Regions from separate parts of the Homo sapiens genome. Here all the other regions are linked to region 3. Evidence: fine-mapped expression QTL. A gene starts in region 3. Each other region holds a variant in brackets. All regions are shown on one strand. Distances are from middle to middle.

Region 1 (5,227 bases), 140 kb before region 3:
AAAATCTTATCTTGAATTGTAATCCCCATAATCCCAATGTGTCAAGGGCAGGACCAGGTGGAGGTAACTGGATCACGGGGGTGGTTTCCCCCATTCCGTCCTCATGATTGTGAATGAGTCTCGCAAGATCTGATGGTTTTATAAACATCTGGCATTTCCCCTGCTTGCACTTCCTCCATCTTGCTGCCCTGTGAAGAAAGTGCCTGCTTCTCCTTTGCCTTCTGCCACGATTGTAAGTTTCCTGAGGCCTCCCCAGCCATGCAGAACAGTGAGTCAATTAAACCTCCTTCCTTTATAAATTACCCGGGCTTGGGCATTTCTTCATAGCAGTGTGAGAACAGACTAATACAGTGTCTAAGAGCCATCACTCCAAAGAGCAAACTTTATTGCCATGGCGTTAGCTGAAAAACACTTAGGCTATTAGATTGAATGTGTGCTGATCCCTGAGACTTTCTCTAAATAGTTATATAAAGCAACACATATGGAAAAAACAGCTAAGCAAAGAAAAAGATTCAGCAGAGGAAAAGTGGCTTTCTTGGTTATTTATCTTTTCCTGCAATAAGTATGCAATCATGATTAATTCAAGTTCCCTCCTAGTGTTATTCTATTTAACTGAGATATTGATGTACAATATTAGAATGCTACCAATTGTGAGAGGGAACAAGACAGTTTGGGCATGGTGCCTAAATATCAGGAGGGTGTTAAAAGAGTTATTCAGAGTATCATTTTTATTTTGCCTATGGATTGAGTCTTTCCTATGGTTCATAGGGGAAAGAATGGTGAGAAGGAGCAGAGTGAGATGAATGAAATTTGATCTCTGTCGTTGGCTGTGGTTGCTACTCTTGGACAGTAACTCGATGACCATGAAGAAGACTTCCTCATTTCATCACATCCTGCATGTTGACTAGGATCACAGCTGGCAGCTAGTCTCCTTCCTTCCAGTTCAGAATGAATGGACTAAACATTTACTTAGTGGAGAGTTATGCAAAATTTTGATACTATAGAATGTGTTCACCTAACGGGTTGAGCCAAGAAGAGGCTCCTAAATCTAAGTCTGTATGTTAAATAAATAGAAGAGACGATTTAGCATCTTACAATATTTCTGTCGGACTCACTTTTGGAGTTGACCTTTTTGATGTGGCGGGTAGGCCTGTGGAATTTCTGAGAAATCCTTGGAAATTCTTTGTGCTTAAAATGAATAGAATCATATTTTGTGCTCCTTGAGGTGCTGGGGTTGGGGACCTGGGCCAGGGAAAATCAGATTGTGAAACCTCCACTCAGTCTTTACTTTCCTTTCTTCCTTATAAATAATTTCAATCCCACTGAAACCCCTTAATGTGACCAGATGAGTTAAAGGGAGGATAGGGATCAGAGGTAAAGAGAAATTGGTCTTACTGCTTGGCCTCGTGATGAGGGCTGTGGAAGGAGATGTTAGGGACTGATTTATATAGGGACCAGAGTTCTATTTTTCCTTTTTTTTTTTATGGTAAAGCCCAGCTGGCCAGAGCTACCTCCTTGTGCCCCACTGGCTATCTTCCAGAGGCAGTACCTAGCTGCTAGCCGCTGTTTATCGTCAAGCTCCCCACACCTCAACAACAGCTCCAGGCTCAGCCATTGCCATGGATTTCTTTCCTCCTATGTCTCCACAGACTCTTTCACCTTTTGATTTTAAAACATCCTTTGTTTAATTTTTTTGTTTCTCTCGTTCAAAGGGAATGGACAGAGACTCTTCCTTGTTCTCTGCCTTCCCTCCATTATTTTGCCTAAACCAAGATTCTTCGGCTTGAAATAAAAAATCATAATCCAACTCTGCAGTTCTCATAGAGGCCCTAGTTTTGTCTGTGGCCTGTGCTTTAGAGGGGTCCAAATGTATCAATTATGATGCTCACACCTGAATGCTACCTCTGAAATCACCTTTGTCCCCTTGCTTGTGTAACACAACAGAACGT[G/A]CTTTTAGAAGGGGTCTTTTGTATTACTAGATTCTAAAATATTGACAGAACAATTTCCAACCTGTTAGCCTGCTTTCTTAAAAAAGTTAATTCAACACCAAGCACCAAGCTAGTTATTGTTCATGTGTTGTGCTTCCAGCTTCAGGCACAGATTTGCAAGAAGATTGGGAGAAATGAGAGTTGTGAGGAGGGTACAAGTTGTATCACTCCCTCAAGGGCCTGTAAGAATGGACACCAAGATACTGAATGCCTTTAGGGGAGGTTGTTTACTATTCCTAGAGGTAAAATGGCCCAGTGCCATGATTGGGGAAGGGACTTGAATCTTCAACCCTTTAAGTGAAATAGTTCTGGGCTAGATAATGTGGTAGGTGCTGAAGAGCTGAACTTGGGCTGGTGTGTGTTTCTCTTAATTGAATGATCTCTGGCCCAGGGGAGGGCATGGCCATTCAGCGGCTGGCCTCTTCTAAGCTGAGCTATGTGTGTTCTCTTACGTAGGCCACTCCATTGCTCTGGGCCTGCAGAAAGCCCTCTACAGTGCTGTATAAAGGATATAGTCAAAAGCAGGTCAGTATAACAGAGTTCATTTTAGTGGAATTCAAATGTACCATTGGCCAAATCTCTACATCAGGATAACCGTGTTTTGGGTCCATATTCCCAATACTGTTTTCATAAAATAGTTTTAGTATATTTGCAAAAGGGAGGAGAGCATCTGCTAAAAGTTTCTTGGGGAAATTCATGCTATAGTTTGGAAATAGATAAAAACATACTTTGTTTTCACTTTAAAAAAAATCTTCGGCTGGGTGCAGTAGCACACACCTGTAATCCCAGCACTTTGGGAGGCAGAGGCAAGAGGATCACTTGAGCCCAGGAGTTTGAGATCAACCTGGGCAACATGGCAAAATCCTATCTCTACAAAGAATACAGAAACTAGGTGAGTGTGGTGCTGCATGCCTGTAGTCCGAGCTACTCAGGAGGCTGAGGTGGAAGGATCACCTGAGCCTGTGAGGTCAAGGCTACAGTGAGCCAAGATTGTGCCACTGCACCCCAGCCTAAGAGATAGAGTGAGACCCTGTCTCAAAAAAAATATTTTGTTTGGTTCATTTTCCCTCCAGAACTCCATAGAGGACTGTATAAATTCACATAAGGAGAAAAAGCAACTCACCAAACCTTAAGATGGTTTCTCAAAATTCCCAGACCCTGGTATACACACATATTCTCCCATACCAGGACACTGAATGCCTTTGGAGGAGGTTGATTACTTTCTTTAGAGGTAAAAAGGCTCAGGCTTAAGACAGAGCCTTGAGCCTGCAGGCCTTTGAAGGAAAGCATTCTGGGCAGGATGGACTTGGTAAGTGCTGAGGAGCTGAATCTGATATAGTGAGCACTTCCTGTATCTGGGTGACTGGGGAGCTAAGGAAGGGCATGGCCACTTAGAAGCTGGCCTTCTCCAGGGTGCAGTCTATATGTTCTCTTTTGCAGACCACTCCCTTGCTGTGGGCCTGTGTTCCTTCATCTGTAAAGTGAAAAGAGTAGGCTCGATGTTCCCTAAATTCTCTCCATTGTTTACGCAACACATCCTCCAGGAAGGACTCCCTAGCCAACACAGGTGGGACTGGGGACGAAGTGTGGGCTTGTCCCTTCAGATATCCCACCCTCAACAGACAGATTGTACCATAAGAGCAGAAAACATGCCTGGGTCATCTTTGTGACCCCATCGTCTAGCCAGGAGCTGGGAACAGAGCAGGTATCTCCAACAGTCTGTGTAATATATACATGAGAAACTGTTCAGGCAAGTAATCTTGACAACCCCTCTAGCAAAGTTCTGCTGTTCTTTTCAAACCTCTCCATTCACGAAATCAAGTGGTGGCTAAGACATGGTCATCAGATAACACTGAGCTCAAATCCTGGCCCTTTCAGGATCTTTGGCAGGTCATCTATAGCAGATGTTGTCTGTGTCCTACTAGATCTCAGCCATATGTACTTGGCCCAATTTGCAACAGCTTGATGCTTCCTCTGGGGTCTGAAGCCCCTCTGCCTGAACAGGGAAGGCTGGGGAATAAATGCCCCCAGGAGCAGCCCTCAACCAATGATTATTGGGAGTTGGTGGATAAATGCCCAAGCTTCCTTGCCCCTTAGACAGAATAATTACGAAGTGATTGTTCTACACTGTGAGAAGGTGATAAGCAGTCTGTACTAGTCCGTTCTCATACTATAAAGAACTACCTGAGACTGGGTAATTTATAAAGAAAAAAAGGTTTAATTCACTCACAGTTCCACAGGCTTAACGGGAAGCATGACTGGGAGGCTTCAGGAAACTTACAATCATGGCAAAAGGTGAAGGGGAAGCAAGGCATATCTTTTCATGGTGACAGGAGAGCAAAAAATTAAGGGGGAAAGTGCCACACACTTTTAAGCCATCAGATATTATGAGAACTCACTCACTGTCATGAGAACAGCAATGGGGAAATCCTCCCCCATGATATAATCACCTCCCATCAGGCCCCTCCTCCAATTCGACATCAGATTTGGGTAGGGACACAAATCCAAACCATATCGCAGTCCCTGACAGCCAGCACTGGCCTGGTACGCACAACTAGGTCTTGATGTTTTCCTGTTGAACATAAACAGTCTCACAGAGCACTACTGCCAGACAAAATCACTCTGTGATCTTGACGAAGTGAGAAAAAAAATACCACTTCATAACCTTGTCTAGGCATAGAAAAAACAAGATCACTGTGCAAATGAAAAAAGTACCAAACACGGAGTTCAACTTCCAGCATGACAGCTTGAGGAACTCTGCTGATGCACTCCCAAGTGAAAGTGGTAAATATTATTTTTAAAACAACAACTTAAAGCCCCTGGAAATGGTCCTAAGGGAAAACAGCAAATGAAGAAACGTCTTTCTAAGAGAACCTACAAAAATTCAATAAGAAAAGCAAGTCTGTGGTATTTGAATCACTACAGCTTCTTCCTTTTCCCCTCCCAGATCAGTAAGGCAGAGATTCTACTTCAGACTGCTGCAGACAAGAGCATAGGGCTCCCTCTCCCCTCTGGCTCCCAGCCAGAGGACTTTCTTCCCAAGAGGAGCAGCACTTCAGCATCATTCATACTGACACCAGCTACTTGTTTCTGAGGCTAAGTATCAGGTGAGTACAGCTGAGTGATGGTGGCTCATTTAATCTGCCGACTCTGTCCCCCAGTTATTTAATGGAGGCTCTACCTTAGATGCAACACACTGAGGAAACCGCGGCTCAAGTTTTCCTTGCCTCGCTCATGAG
Region 2 (5,227 bases), 240 kb before region 3:
TGCAGGGGGAGAAATCTGAGCAAAGGTTTGGAATTAGTACCCAGCATAGCCAGTGTGGGGCTTCTGTGGACTCCAGCCTGGCTGGAGTGTATACTCCATTTTGAGGCTGGACTTTGGCAGACTGAGGAATTTGAACACTCCCCTGAAGGTACTGGGGAGCCACAGAAGGGTTTTGATTAAGTGAATGACATATTTTTAAAAGTGTTTTAGGAAGAGTAATCAGGCAGCAGTGGGGTCTGGCAGGACAGCCTTACAGTGATGGAGGCATGAGGATGGGAGCAGTGGGAATGCAAAAGGTGCAATTTCAGAGGAAGCTCTGCCCAGAGACTGAACCAAATGGAATCCTGAATCTCAAGCAGAAAAAAACCACATTAATTTGCTAAACCCGAACCATATCTAAGAATTAGCTTTCTTTTCCTTCATGGTTCAGTGAAAAAAAAAAATTAAATGGCTGCTGGAACCACTCAAACTGAAACCAAGTATATATTATCTAAAATTATTGAATATTTTAAAACAAACTACTATCCTATTCCCATATTGCGGTTTGTGCCTACAAAGTCTTAATACTGGCCAGGGACAGTGGCTCATGGCTGTAATCCCAGGACTTTGGGAGCCTGAAATGGGAGGATAGATTGAGCCTAGGAGTTCGAGGCCAGCCTGGGCAACATGTCAGAACCGCATCTCTACAAAATTTAGCTGGGCATGGCAGTGTGAGCCTGCAGTCCCAGTTACTTGGGAGGCTGAGGTTGGAGGATCACTTGAGTCAAGGAGGTTGAGGCTGCAGTGAGCCATGACCATACCACTGCACTCCAGCCTGGGTGACAGAGCAAGACCCCATCAAAAAAAAAAAAAAAAAAAAAAAAGAAAGAAAAGGAAAGAAAAGAAGGAAGGAAAAAAAAAGAAAAAGAAAAAACCCAACCAACCAAACAAACAAAAAACAAAATAAAGTGTTAATACCTTTAAGAACAGGGTTCAAAGGTTTGAATTGTGTTGCCAGAGGCTGGCTCTTAGAAGGAACAAAATGTAGCTACATATTTTAGTGGAGGCTTTTATTATATGTTGGAGTACTGCTTTCATGCCTGTTGGCATTACATCCCCCGGGCTCAGAGAAGTTAAGTAAAGTAAGTAACCTAAGAGTAAGAAAGTAAGTTGCTAGAGTCAGCATCTGGTGACAGAGCATAGATGACAGAGCCAGGATTCGAACACAGTCTGACTTCAGAGTCAGCTATGGCATACTGCCTGCCTATATATACTACTAGTCCACCCTTGGTGTTTTAGGAGGCAGGCAAACATAATTTGGGGGATGTCAGAAGTTGACTCCCAAGCTACAAAGGTGCTCCTGCAGTTCCACACTCACCCATACACACAGGTCTGTCCTTTTCAGAGAATAGTCCTTGTACAGCTGTCCGTTTTTGGGGGCAGTAAATAATCTGTGCATCCTCCCTGCCCTGTCCCCAGGGCCTAGTACAATGCCAGCTAATAGGAGACAATGTATGCTTATGCATGGGCTCTTGAGATATGCTCCTGAAAATACTGAAATCCAATTCAAACTCTGATTAATTGAAACTCCCTTAAAATTCCACTATGGGCCAAGTGTGGTGGCTCACACCTGGAATCCCAGCACTTTGGGAGGCTGATGTGGGAGTATCTCTTGATGCCAGGAGTTCAAGACCAGCCTGGCCAATATAGTAAGACTCTGTCTCTACAAAAAATATTTTTTTAAAAAATTCCACTACGGAAGCTTACTATTAAAAACAGTGGGTCTCAAACATTGATGAACTTGTTAACACAGATTCTTGACCCCATCACCAGAGATTCTACCAGATTCAGTAGGACTGGGGCTGGGCCTAGGAATCTGCATGTTTAACCATCTCTCTTTCTCAAAGATACATGCACAGATACACGCAGAGACACCCACAGGCACACACAAATAATGCACTGATACAAACAGGCAGGCACACATAGACACAAACACAGATGATTCTGATGCAGTCTGCCCTGTAACCACACTGACTTCACCTCCTTAGAGAAACACTGACTTTAAAGAATCTGAAGATAAATTCATCTGTAAAGTTTAAGTCTTTTCATATGTGAATAGTCCCTCTCTGATTCATTTTGGAGATCAGCCTTTGATTGTTTTTCTGTTTTCTTTTTTGCATTCTTATAGCAGGGGAGTCACATGTAATAATCATCCTAATGCCAGGGCGTTTCGTTGTGACTTTAAGTGTTTTAGATTCGTGATGAACTCCAGTGGCCAAGTTGTAAACTAGTTTGTGACATCCAGGAGGACAGGAACTTTCATTTAATTAATTCCACAGGTATTTATGTAGCACCAACTGTGTGTCAAGCACAGCAGTGAGCAAAATGAACCAGTTCCTGCCCTCATGGAGCTCACGTTCAAGTTGGGGAGGCAGACAATAACGTAGTAGACACATCAGTAAGTTATTTTCATATGGGAATGAATGCTACAGAGAAATTAGAAAAGGGTGATGTATTGCTTAGCTCGGGCTGCCATAACACGATACCATAGACCAGGTGGCTTAAACAATAGAAATGTACTTATTTCTCTCATTT[C/T]TGGAGGCTGGAAGTCTAAGATCAGGGTGCCAACATGGTCGAGCTCTGGTGAGGGCTCTCTACCTGGCTTGTGCCACTTCCCCTCTGTGCTCACAGTGACCTTTCCTTTCACATTCAAGTAGGGAGGGAGAGAACGAAAGTCGGGGTCGGGGGTGGGTGGGGGAGGGGCGTGGAGTAGGGAAGTCAGGGGAGAAGGAGGGAAAAAGAGGAGGAGGAGGAGGAGAGCGAGATCTTCCTTTTCTTATAAAGCCACCAATCCTATCCGATTAGGACCCCACCCTTGTGGCCTCATTTAACTTTAATTATCTTCTAAAAGCCCTATCTAAAAATACAGTCACATTGGGGGATAGGGCTTTAACACATGAATTTGGAGGGACAAAATTCATTCCATAGCGGATAATGTGATAGAGAGCGACAGGGCTGGGAAGGGGTGTCTTTGGACAGAGTGGTCAAGAAAGGCCTCCCCACGGAGGCGACTTTCAGGTTTTGTGTAGCAACTCAGCTTTAGTTGTTTACCAGGACATTGGTTTTTATTTGTTTGTTTTTTTGTTTGTTTTGTTTTGAGAGGGCACACACTGAAGTCTTTGAAGCCTGAATTCAGGTCCCAGTTCTACCACTTACGACTTGGGCAAGTTCTTTAACTTCTCTGTGCTTCACTTTCTTCATCTGTAAAATGTGCATGGTGATAGTCCCTATTTGATAGGATACTGTGAGGATTTGCAGAACTTTCTGCAATGATGGAAATGTTCTGTAACCTGCTCTGTCCAGTATAGTAAACACTAGCCACATGTGACTATTGAGCACTTGAAATGTGGCTGGTGAGACTTACCAACTGAATTTTTCTTTTTACTTAATTTTACTTAATTTAAATTTAAATAGCCACATGTGGCTAGTAGCTACCACATTAAACAGCACAGATGCAATGAATTCACACATGTGAAATGCTTAGCACTGTGCCTGGTACATAGCAAGTGTCAATAAGTGCTATCTAGGATTAGTGTTAGTGGTGGTTACAAGTATTTTTCTGGCAGGTAGGAGTTTTTTTTCGGGGAGTGGGGATAAACAATCACACTTTGATTTATTATAGTACATGGCTATGATGTCTCTTACTGTAGCTCCCCACCTGCCCACCTGTCTTTTCACTGAGCTGTATGGTAGCCCAATCCCAGAGTTGGGGAGGGGGCTGGGGAGGACAGCCTGCTCCCTGGGGACTGACTGGAGCATGCTCCTCCCTGTCCAGCCGGGTGGAGATCACTGGTGGGTACTACGAATACATCGATGTCAGCAGTTGCCAAGATATCATCCACCTCTACCACCTGCTCTGGTCTGCCACCATCCTCAACATTGTTGGCCTGTTCCTGGGCATCATCACTGCCGCTGTCCTTGGAGGCTTTAAGGACATGGTAAGGAAAGAATTGACTTTGCATTTCACAGTGGCCCCTGTTGGACATAGGGGGAAGGCTAGGCAGTTGGGGGAAATGCAGACACATATTTTGAAGGGAAGAATCAGAAGCAATTGCTTCAAGGATGTAGCTGCCTTCAAATGTCTCAAGTTGAAGGAGCCAGGTAATGTCATCAGTCTGCAAATATTTCTTGTTATACACAAATTACCTGTGTTCTGGAGGCACCTTCTAGGGGTGGGGGGTGAAAGGAGGAAGGGGTGTTCTCAGTTCCCCCATTCGCACTGGTTATGTAAACATAGTCTTTTATAGCCCCACCCCACACTTTTAGTAAAATTTTTTGGGAATAGTTTTCCCCTAACAAACTTTGGGAGAGATGGAAGGAAAGGTTATTCTAGCTATAGGTAGGATTAATGCTAGTCTTCCCCTCCCCAGGTATTTCATAGTGAAGTTTCTTCAGAAAGAGCATCTGGGCTCTTTTCTGTTTGCATTCGCAGAGCCAGCTCTAGGCTAAGTTGCTTGCCAGGTCTTGCCTTCAACTTGGACCTCAACCTCAGCCTCCCCACTTTCCATTCTTCCCTTCCAAATCTTTTCTATTTGTGTGTGTGTGTCTGCAAAGGCACAGCAGGACTCAGCATTCAGTAGGTACTCCATATAGTAGGCTTCTTTTTTTCCTTTCCTTCTAAGGCATTTCTAAGCATTTATTTGTTTATTTGATAAATCTAGATCTCTAATTATGGAGATAATAGCTTTGAGTTATGGTTATCAACCTGGCTTCATATAAGAATCACCTGCCCAGCATGGTGGCTCATGCTTGTAATCTCAGCCCTTTGGGAGGCCAAGACAGGAGGATTGACTAAGCCCAGGGGTTTGAGACTAGGCTGAGCAACAGCCCCTGTCTCTATTAAGAAAAAACAACTTTTTTTAATTAGCTGGGTGTAGTGGCACATATCTGTAGTCCCAGCTACTTGGGAGGCTGAAGTGGGAGGATCACTTGAGCCCAGGAGGTTGAGGTTGCAGTAAGCCATGATTGCACCACTGCACTCCAGCCTGGGTGACAGAGTAAGACCCTGTCTCTAAAAAAAAAAAAAAAAAAAAAAAAATGCTTGGGCTCCTTCTCTAAAGATTCTGATTTAATTGGTCTAAACTGAAGCCCAGGCATCAGGTTTTGTTTTTTGGTTTTTTGGTTTTTTTTTTTTAAGCTCCCAGGTAATTCTGATCTGCAGCCATGATTGAATACCACTGCTTTAAAT
Region 3 (5,227 bases):
AGTGTTGGAGATGGGGCCTGGTGAGAGGCGATTAGATCATAGGGGCAGATTTCCCCTCTAGTTTTGTTCTAATGATAGTGAGTAATCATGACATCTGGCTGTTTAAAAGTGTAGCATCGGCTGGGCATGCCCTCAGCCTCCCAAGTGTCTGGGATTACAGGCACTTGCCACCATGCCCCGCTAATTTTTGTATTTTTAGTAGAGATGGGGTTTTACCATGTTGGCCAGGTTGGTCTTGAACTCCTGACCTCGTGATCTGCCCACCTTGGCCTCCCAAAGTGCTGGGATTACAGGCATGAGCCACTGTGCCCAGCCTAGTCTCTAGCTTTTAACTGGATCTCAGCTCTGGGCAGAGCCCACGCTGAATCCTGGATCTCCAAAAGATAGAATTATCATGATTCTAGACCATGTGATGCATTTGCACTGCACTTTGTTACAAAGACTTTCCTCTAAGTGTCTAAAGTATACCTTTTCTTATCTTAAACACCCGAAGAGTAGCCTCTGTTGTAATAACTTAGTCCAAAAATCAGGTAACACAGTACAAAAGCAAGCAGTTTAAGATCTGAGAGGAACTTGTCTGTTTAGACTCTTGGGGTTCCATAAGGAAAAACAGATGTTTCTCCTCAAAAAGGACTCTAGTGCCTTCTCTGTTTTATTTAAGGAATTACAGGCTGTTAGAAACTATTTTGGGTCCCTCATGCAGCAGAGGGGAACAAGAGAAAGGAGAGATAGGCAGAAGTAAATGGAGAAAACAGAATTCATTTGACTGACTGAGAAGGAAAAAACCTTTTTCTCAAAAAACAAGGTACTAGGAGAGAAAAAAAAAACAGGCCAGGCACGGTGGCTTACGCCTGTAATCCCAGCATTTTGGGAGGCTGAGGAAGGCAGATTACCTGAGGTTGTCGGGAGTTTGAGACCAGCCTGACCAACATGGAGAAATCCCATCTCTACTAAAAATACAAAATTAACTGGGTGTGGTGTCGTATGCCTGTAATCCCAGCTATTTGGGAGGCCGAGGCAGGAGAATTGCTTGAACCCGGGAGGTAGAGGTTGCAGTGAGCCAAGATCGCACCATTGCACTCCAGCCTGGGCAACAAGAGTGAAACTCCTTCTCAAACAAACAAAACAAAACAAAAAACCATAAAGGCCTTTTAAATATACACACACACACACACATCGTGGATATTAGCTTTTAATTAAACTGACTTTTAGCCACTAAGCTCTTAAAAAATTCTTCTAAATCTCACTACCCTATTTTAGCTGGAACAAATTGCTGATATTTCAAAAATAACACAAATATCAAACCAGAAAGAACTTGATTTAGGAACCAAACCCAGGCTGTTGTGGTGGAAAAAAGGGCAAAACCTTAGCTACAGAACTGCAGTGTGGAGCACAGTTTGGCTTGGCTAGCAAAAGGTGGCCTTGTTATGTAAATAAAGCCCCTCAGGTAGTCAAAATCTTTCTTTTTTCCTGTTGATGGCTGTTTATCCTTTTCCCTTTTCCCCCCCAGCTGCAGGAATTTACCCAATGCAGAGGCGTTGTTCCTCACCATTTGTAACTTTCCTTCACATTTGATATAGTTGGGTAGAGTTAGTCAAATCCAATGGGAAAAAGACCAAAACAACAAAACAAACAAATAAATGAAAAAACAGTTTGGCAAAACAAACAAATGATCATACTATGTATACAATTCCTGAGCACTCTAATGGTAAGGAGAAATTAAGAGCTGCTGGTTGTTAATCTTAACTTTAGGTCATTAAGGAGAATTTTCAAGATAAAACCCCAATTCAGCTACTTACCTAGGAATGGAGTCCAGGCTCAACACTGCTCTCTACCAGCCTATAAGCAGGAAAAAAACTCCAACTCGCCTTCCCTGTTGGAATTGAGCTGAAACTCCAGAAAGGAGTTGCCTGCCCTCCATCATCATGGAAGCAGGAAAACTCACCTTCCTTGTTGAAAGTGAGTAAAACTCCAGAAAAGGAGTTGTACAGCAAAAAAAAACCTTAGATATCGACCAAATTTGGGGAGATCAGGGTGAGGGAAGAGACGGACCCTCTCATATTGTTTTATATTGTTTTATACTCAGTACCTGTTTTAAGAAAAAAACAAGGAAGTGAAACCAAGGGCAGGCAGCCAGGCACCAGACCCAAAACCAGAACTGAAACCAGGCCTGGGCCTGCCTGGCCTAAACCTAGTAGTTAAAAATCAACTCATGACTTAGCAACCGATGTTATCCATAGATTCCAGACATTGTATGGAAGAACGCTGTGAAACTCCCTGCTCTGTTCTGTTTCACTCTGACTACCGGTGCATGAAGCCCCTGTCACATACCCCCTAGATTGCTCAATCAATCACGACCCTTTCATGTGAAATCTTTAGTGTTATGAGCCCTTAAAAAGGACAGAAACTGTGCACTCGAGGAGCTCGGATTTTAAGACAGTAGCTTGCCGATGCTCCCAGCTGAATAAAGCCCTTCCTTCTACAACTCAGTGTCTGAAAGATTTTGTCTGCAGCTCGTCCTGCTACAAGGGATTGTCTGGAGGGGGGAAGTTCCCAGGCCTCAGCAAATCTGCCTATTGATTTGAGCAATAAAGATATCTCAAGCTGGTACCAAGCAGTAATAGAAGATTTGTCAAAGGTCAGGGGCACCTCCACTCAGAATCCCTTGGTGGTTACCAATTTGTAAACCAAAAAGTATCTGAGCTAGGTCTCAATTAACTTGGAAATTTTATTTTACCAAGGTTAAGAACATGCATCTGGAAGGCAGGTCTATGCCTTTTTCCAAAGAAGATTTTGTGGACTTCAGTATTTAAAGGCAAAAGGGCAGATATTGGGGGAAAAGGAAAAAAAATTAAAGGTGTGGGTAGATAACAGACAAATGGTTGCATTATTTTGAGTGTTTGATAAACCTTTCACTGAATACACAGTTTACATGTGAGAGAAGGGTAGAGGAATAGTTACTTATGCCTTTGTCAGCTCAGTGAATCTGCATTTTTACATTAGGAAAGCAATCAGATATGCATCTGTCTCAGATGAACAGAAGGATGACTTTGAGTTCTGTTCTTTGTCTAGAACCTGTGAAGATAAGCTATCAATTTACATTGTCAGGGTAAAATTCAACAGAACCATTTTAAGGTAAACATCTTGGGGCTCAAAAGGAATGTCCCAGTGGACAAATTGTGAGACATGTATGTAGCTTTTTTTTTTGTTTGTAGCTATCTTATTTAAGAATAAAATGGGAGGTAGGTTTGCCTGATGCAGTTCCCAGCTTGACTTTTCCCTTTGGCTTAATGATTTTGGAGTCCTGAGATTTATTTTCCTTTTACAAGACATTACCATTCCAAAAGAATGAATATGGGAGGCATAAAGTGGTTTCTTGTCCCAAGTAAGTTCAAAATTTAGCATGGCAGGGCCAGGTGTGGTGGCTCACGCCTATAATCCCAGCACTTTGTGATGCTGAGGTGAGTGGATCACTTGAGGTCAGGAGTTCGAGACCAGCCTGGGTAACATGGTGAAACCCCCCTCCTCGTCTCTACTAAAATACAAAAATTAGAGGGGCATTGTGGTGAGTTCCTGTCATCCCAGCTACTCAGGAAGCTGAGGCAGGAGAATTGCTTGAACCTGGCAGGTGGAGGTTGCAGTGAGCTGAGATTGTACCACTGCACTCCAGCCTGCGTGACAGAATGAGATTTCATCTCAAAAAAGTAAATAAATAAATAATTAGCATAGCTAATTCCATTAGATTTCAAGGCCTAGGAACAATCCTCTTTAGCTCAATGTTCTGCCATCTGGTCTTGCAGTGATCCACCAGCTTCTGTGCCACCCTCATAATTCACTCTTCCTTTTTCTTGAAGGCTAATGTGTCTTTGCAGTCTAGTAGCCCTGTCAGCTCATATCCTGCCTATAGATTTCCAGAAGTCCAACAGTCTTCCTTCATTTCATCCCATATCTATCTCCTTTACTCCAAGATGCCAGTATTTCTGTTGATATAACATTCTCAAAATCCTTATCAGTCTCGTGTGTGTTATGGGAGTCCATGTCATTAGACAAGATCCTTCCTGGATAAACCCATCTCTATTCCTGCCTTCAGCTGATATGGTTGATTGGATCCATGAATCACATATATAATCTCTTTAGCAAGATTGTCCAGCCATACTGTTGGCCTTCTCTTCAGAGTATGCTTTTGCGACAATAAATTTTCTAATTTTGGCATCCTTTGGAATCACGATAGGCTGAGAACCTCCAAAATCAAGTGCTAGTTACTTTTTGCCTAATAGTTCTTTCCTCAATTTATATCTTTCACATTGAAATGGGAGAGTTCACTGACCCCCCTTGCAGGGCCTGCAACAGGGGTGTGGCTCGTCTGTTTGGCCACTGCATGCTCAAACCCCTTATGGGAGGGGGAGCACGCATTTGAGCTAGGGCAAGCACTTTTGGGCTCTGGGCCTACAGCAATATCCAGGGATGTTACAATGCTCCTTTAGCCCTGCCATCCAGGGACAGCTTAAGTGTTAAACAGCTCAGTGCCCTCTTGGTACTGGGTTCCTGTCCAGCATCCAGGAAGAATCAGGTCACACAGACAAATTGAAGGATGGTAAATGTGGCGTATTTTATTGCTGGATGGAGGTGGCTCTCTGCAGGATGGATGGGGAGCTGGAAAGGGAATGGAGTGGGAAGATAATCTTCCCCTGGAGTTCAGTCGTCCCTTGGCTGATCTCCTCTCCTACCGTCCCCAGCCTAACTCCTCTTGATGTTCAGAAGCTCCTTCTCTTCTCTCCTTCTCTGCCACACCACTCTTCTGTTCCTCTGCTCTTCTGCTTGTCTGCTCATCTGCTTGTGGATCCTGGGGTTTGGAGTTTATACAGGTACAGGATACAGGGGCGTGGCAGGCCAAAAGGCAGCATTTGGGCACAAAAACAGGAACGCTTGTTCCCATTTAGGGCCACGGGTTTCCAGACTTGAGGGTGGGGCCTTTGCTGGGAAACCACCCTCTTCTACCCAGTATTTCCCTGTCTCCTGTCTGTATCAATATTACATTTTACTATAAGCAGCAAGGAGAAACCAGGTTATGAAGATAAGCTATCAATTTACATTGTCAGGGTAAAATTCAACAGAACCATTTTAGGGTAAAGATCTTGGGGTTCACAAAGAAAAATCTTAAGGATTTTGCCTGTAAATTTCTGCCAAATATCCAAGTTCATCACTTTCAAGTTCTGCTTTCCATGTG

Direction of the effects. Positions count from the first base shown, and alleles are read on the strand shown. Sizes are in standard deviations (SD) of each study's normalised expression. Not every link is listed here.
With allele G in place of A in region 1, the expression in prostate of the gene that starts at base 2,096 in region 3 is lower (moderate effect, 0.59 SD a copy in GTEx).

What was found. PIP is the estimated chance that this variant, and not a neighbour inherited with it, causes the effect. A credible set is the group of variants that fine-mapping cannot tell apart.
Region 1: its variant is the best candidate, but not a certain one, in a credible set for the expression of RHOXF1-AS1 in prostate (GTEx, PIP 0.53).
Region 2: its variant is the best candidate, but not a certain one, in a credible set for the expression of RHOXF1-AS1 in testis (GTEx, PIP 0.89).

The regions. Positions count from the first base shown.
Region 1 is chrX:120,175,774-120,181,000 of GRCh38, reverse strand. No RefSeq gene overlaps it. Among named protein-coding and RNA genes, the nearest start is that of RHOXF2, 20 kb to the right of the region's middle. The variant G/A (reference allele first, on the strand shown) is at 1,950.
Region 2 is chrX:120,275,635-120,280,861 of GRCh38, reverse strand. TMEM255A (transmembrane protein 255A) reads left to right here. Exons shown (of 9, transcript NM_001104544.3): 7 at 3,815-3,977. Among named protein-coding and RNA genes, the nearest start is that of ZBTB33, 27 kb to the right of the region's middle. The variant C/T (reference allele first, on the strand shown) is at 2,575.
Region 3 is chrX:120,033,105-120,038,331 of GRCh38, reverse strand. RHOXF1-AS1 (RHOXF1 antisense RNA 1) reads right to left here and starts at 2,096. Exons shown (of 5, transcript NR_131238.1): 1 at 1,800-2,096.